2 separate regions of the Homo sapiens genome follow, and region 2 is linked to region 1. A link means that fine-mapping ties the variant in region 1 to the expression of a gene that starts in the linked region. Tissue or cell type: blood mononuclear cells. Region 1 holds a variant in brackets; the other region holds the start of a gene. All regions are shown on one strand. Distances are between the middles of the regions. Region 1 overlaps CYTIP (cytohesin 1 interacting protein). Region 2 holds the start of CYTIP (cytohesin 1 interacting protein).

Region 1 (2,500 bases):
GTTCCTGCTCATTCCAGTAATGTCTTTGAAAGCAAAACTAATATTTATTTTCTAGATTATCCCTGTGAATAATTGAGAACTTTTTGGAGTCAAGTATGAATAAAGGTGTGGCAGAATATAATAATCTGGACTATTTTCTATAGGATAATTGCTGGGTTATAAAATCTTAGGTTTGCTTATGCCCAGTAGCTCCTGCGGAGGCTTAATAATAGGCAATTTTGAATTTGTTCAAACCTGTAATGGCTTGTAAACAAAGATGACCATCAGCTGTTTCTCACATCTATAGTGACAATAAAGCGGGAAGTATAAGATTTAATAGGAGGGGTTAAGGTTCATGAGAACCATGGAAAGATGTGGTCTGAGATGGGTGCTGCAAAGATCATAATAAAGTCATTTTTATAGACAGTCTAAACAAAATGGGTGGGGATGTCGTGTTTTTTGCCCAATTCAGCTTTTGTTCTGCCTGAACATTAATGGCAAGTCTAGAACTCTCCGAATCCTACAGCTTTGTAATTTTTTTTCTACAAATGTCTAACATCCAAAACTGAGGGTTGGGAAAAGGACTTCCCTCCTGTAGTTTTTTTCATATTACTTCTCACTTTATATCTTATATTCTAAATAGCTATCACCTCAGCAGTCTTTTGCCTATTGGTTATGTTAGTATCACATTACTTCTAGCCTTTCAATTACTCCATGTTTTATTTAATATCCATTGAAGTCTATGAATTCTCTGTTCTGGTGGCACAGCTATTCATAACCTATATTCTAGAGTAGACAATCTGGACTATGTAATAAATAGTCTGCTGATTTTAAGTTCTCTCTCTCTCTCTCTCTCTCTCTCTCTCTCTCTGTGCGTGTGTGTGTGTGTTTGGGAGAAATAGAAACACTTCAATTTAAGTAGAGCTGCTAAATTTAATTAAACTTCTGCTTAAGAAATGAGTTATTTTGAGATAAAAGAGGGTAGGGTAAGGAAGCATCTAAGA[T/C]GAGAAAGAAATGATAAAGTATGAAAAGATTTCTAGTTGGGACTTGCCTTCTATTAACTCTTTGAACTGAGAAACATCCAGTGGCCTGTGCATGACAGTCACTCATATGAAAGGCAGGGTGTCACACCTTTCACAGAAATGATAGCAATACTGTCTACCATTTACTGAGTACCTAGTTGGCTAAAGACACTTTACGTATGATCCTCACAATTACTATATAGTAGGTGTTAGGCATACAGATAACAAGTCAGGAATTTGGAAATGTTCTCAGGGTCACAAGGCTAGTCAGTGGCAGGGCTAAAATTGGAAGCCAGTTCTTCCTTGCTCTAGTCTATTCCAGATATCTTTTACTCTTTTGGTTCTGTTTAGTGATCATCACAGTACTTTTTATTCCACCCAACAGGAATACTTAAAATGTACAATTATAGATGCTGCACAGATAAGAGCATTTCTTTGGGTAAATAGGAAAACAAACATTTCTCTGTTCCTCATATACAAGTTTCAGACATAGGTTCTTTAATAACTACATGATTAGCAGTGCATTTATTTTCAACAAGAGCTTGCAAACCAGTTATGATTCAACTGGTATTGCTTATTTCTCATCATAGTCTAGAATCATCCTGTTAAAGGTCTACTTATATGAATTCAGCATTTCTTGTTATCCTATTTCACAAAGTCCAGGGGAAGGAAACACCACATTTATTTGAGGAAAGATGACTTTGAAATCTTCTACAAGGTGAAAAAATGCTTTGAGAACTACACAGAATGACATAGGTCATACGGGAAAGCAGACCATAGATCATTTGCTTTTCTTGTGATTTTAATACAGAAGTGTAACACTGCTGTATGACAGTAGACCTCAAATGCAAAAAAGGGGCAGGGAAGGGACGGAGCAAGCATCACTTTAGTTTGCGGTAAGAATTAGAGTCGAGGTATGTTCTGAGAATAAAGAAAAAAGTACTGGTTAACCAAAGTACAGGAAGGAAGGGTATGTCATGTTCTATATTTCACAAGCTGTAAGAAAATTAGCTTTTGTTTAGTAGAAATGTGGGTAAATTTCTCACAGTATAACTTTCAGACTAATTTATGACTTCAGTCAGGCTTTAGAAGAAACTTCTGGTGCATAGTGATTCATTCTGATATAATTTACTAGGGAAAAAATTGAAAAGTGTTTTTTTAACTTGAAAGTTCTCAAATATGTATTACTGGTGAATTCCATTAATTGACAACCTGTTATGAAAATGCATTTTTCTAGAAGGGCATTTGATAAACCAAATTTGAATCAAGTAGATTGGGAATTACTTTATCATGTGGCTGAAGAACACAACCATGACAAACAGATTAGTAATATATTTTTGGAAGTGAACTTTTATTTATGACTTTCTACCTTGTAATAATTTTATATCTTAAGATACAGATAGCATTTAAAATCCCAGTTTGCGCTGAATAGATCAAACTTGGAAATAGTATGTGTGTCTTGATCACCAAAGTACAGACATTTTTGAATGTATACATAC
Region 2 (3,042 bases), 30 kb before region 1:
CATGAGTTAAGTAATAAGTATTTTCCAGTTTCTTAATTGAATGATGATCTATGATTTACATCAGCTTAAGGTCAGTATTACAATGAATTGGTACAATTTTAGTAGTCATTTATAAAAATGGGTGAGTCAGTTGGCCTGAGTGGGTGGCCTTATATTAAGCAAATGTATAATTTCCATTTGGCATTTTAAAATATTAAGAATAAAAATTAAAAATATTTACCTAACTTTATCAGATTCCTAGGGTACAGTGGACTGCTGTCATCCATTAATAGTGATGATTTAATTTATGTGCCTCTTAGCCTGAAAATGTTTTTAAAATCAATCTCTCTCTCTGTCTTCCTAATACACACACACACACACACACACACACACACACACCCCACATATACCTGTATACATATCTGTACATATCTATAAATATAGATTTTACGTGAATATCTTTATAATTGATGTATTCTTTAGTTGCCAAGGTATTTACCACTCCCTTTTGCCTTACACATTTATGTTACTTACCTGGCTTCTGAAAACGTATGTGTTTTTAATTCCTGATTTAGACCGTTATATGTTTGTGGTGATATCACTTTGTCCATGTCAAAATTCAATTCCAGTATAATGAGTCATGCTGTGATAGAGTTTTTAAAATCTATAATTGGCTTCAACTTTTGAAGCACTATTAATTCAGATTTTACTATTTATATTTGGCAATTTCTACTTGAGTTGAATTCATCTTCACTTCCAGTACACACACATTTCATTTTAGTTCAAAGATTTGCTAACTCTTTCAAATGCTAGTATTGATCTTCAGAGATTTTAAAAAGCACATTTGACTTTTTGTGCCATATAAAACTTCTCTTTTTGACTTTTGTTTCGATTCTTCCTTTTACTTGCCTCCCCTACTCCTCCACTGAAACCAGTTCTCTCAAAACTACCTGCCCCCAACCTCAGCCAAAGGAAAAAAAAAAAAAGCATCTGTGATCTTGAGTACTTGGTGATGGTGCCCTTGACCCATATGCACATGCAGGGACCAACAGGCAATGTTCTTGGTGCCACCTTGGTTTGCCTGTTACCTTCCTGCCCACTCCTTTCCTCCCCTGGGACCACTTGCTGATGCTGCCGCAAAGTCTCGTCTAAGAAATGGCAACATTGTGCCCTAAATGTGCTGGCTTTCCCTTCCCATTGTACTTTGTAAAGATCATGGGTAATTTTTGTAAGGACAAAGTAGTAAAAGGACAACCAGAAGAATGCTGAATGGTTACAACCTCAGTGGCAGATATAATGTCTTTTTGATGAACATTAATGATCTAGGGTATACTTCAGGGAAAGTACAGTATTACAAGGACTTCGAGAGAGAACATTATGACCGGCACCTGTAATTCTTGCCCATATTCACAAGAACTGAATGTCCTCGTGTGCTGACTTCTGCATTGCATTGCTAATGTTAAGTAAGAGAATGGATGGGAAACAAATGGTAGCACTTGGGGACATTTTTCTTTCTTCTCTAAAGAAAAAAATGGCAAATGGTGGTGTGAATGCAACTTGCCACAGAACATAAAAGCGTAAGAATTCTGGCTGTTTGAGGTGAAAAAATAAGTTGATTTTTCTTTAAATTGTAAAAATTAGCTCCAGGTTCTCTCAGGAGCTTAAAGAAAAAAAGCTTTGAGAAATGGGAGTGAATAGCAAGATAGGGTTTGTGTAACAAGTTCCTCAAACCACAGAGGTCACATGGGCTCTTTCTGCTTTGCTACTTTTGATTACTTGTCACAGTTGTACTTTTAGCTTCCCCCATCCTGCAAGGCCACTCAACCATGTGCTAGCTGGAGTGATCTTTATTCACAATGTCTTTACAAAGGCTCCTGCAACACAGCAGCAATGGCAATTTGGCGGACTTCTGCGCTGGGCCAGCGTATAGCTCTTACTCCACACTCACCGGCAGCCTTACGATGGACGATAATAGAAGGATTCAAATGCTAGCAGACACGGTGGCTACTCTGCCTCGGGGACGAAAGCAGGTATGATTGCTATTTTGTACCCTTTAGAGTGTTCACATTCTCTTGAGGGCAGAGTGATATGTTTGTCTGACTTCATACTAATGGTGATATTTTAGAGGCTTTGGAATTACTGGCTGATTATTATGGGTGAAGGAGGTGAGATGCTCAGGGAGCTAGGTGAACCAGTCCAAAGATTTGAGACCACAATCAAACTTTTTTTTCAAGGCAAAAATTAAGATTGTTTTTCTTATTTGAAGAAGTGCTCAGGTAAAATAAACATCATTAAGCATAAAAAACTTGAAGATGGTTTATATAGATACAACCAGTATGAGAATTAATTCTCTTTTCCCCATTGTGTCTCCACTGATTCTTTCCCTTCCATCCTTACTTGCAGTCCTTGATGGTCATTTCAGTTCATAATCAAATAAGAAATACTTTTTCTGAGGACAAATTTTGTTGACTAATTATCTTCAGCTCTGGGTTGCTGGCACATACCTCAGGCTATTGGAAAGTAAGATTTTTTTTTTTTGGATAGATGAGTGCCAGATTGAATATCAGCTCACCACTTAGTGTCTGTGGGATCTTGAGCAAGCCACTTGCCTCTCTAAGCTTCAGTTTTGTTTTTTCTAAAATGGAGTTAATAATAGAACCACCCTTATTGGGTTCTTATGTTGGTTAAATAAGGAACTGTGCAGTGCCTAACACAGTGACTGGCATTCAGTGTGTGTTTATTAAATGCTAGATTATGCCATTTTAATATTTTTATTGCAAAGTTTGTCTCTAGGGATGAAAACTCATTTGGAAAAATCTATGTCTAACTGAATTTATTTTGATTTTTTCGTTCTTCAATTTCTAACATGTAAAAATTTTTTTTTAACCATAATACCTCTTCAGGATTTTTTTTAAACAACTTGCTCTAAATCCCCAGGTACATATTTGAATTTCGATGTAGCATTTCTACAGAAAATATTTAGAATTGCCCTAGAGCAAGAATTTTTGCGCTTAAGTCTTGCATGTACAATCATGTGCTTCTCGTAAGCCTTCTAAATTCAGG

The links.
Region 2: it holds the start of CYTIP, and the variant in region 1 is fine-mapped to the expression of CYTIP in blood mononuclear cells (TOPMed, PIP above 0.99).

Annotation. Positions count from the first base shown.
Region 1 is chr2:157,412,932-157,415,431 of GRCh38, reverse strand. CYTIP (cytohesin 1 interacting protein) reads left to right here. Exons shown (of 8, transcript NM_004288.5): 8 at 1-813. Among named protein-coding and RNA genes, the nearest start is that of CYTIP, 30 kb to the left of the region's middle. RefSeq lists an enhancer at 1,681-1,730. The variant T/C (reference allele first, on the strand shown) is at 984.
Region 2 is chr2:157,442,814-157,445,855 of GRCh38, reverse strand. CYTIP (cytohesin 1 interacting protein) reads left to right here and starts at 1,767. Exons shown (of 8, transcript NM_004288.5): 1 at 1,767-2,009. The coding sequence starts at 1,836. RefSeq lists enhancers at 1,917-1,966, 2,007-2,106.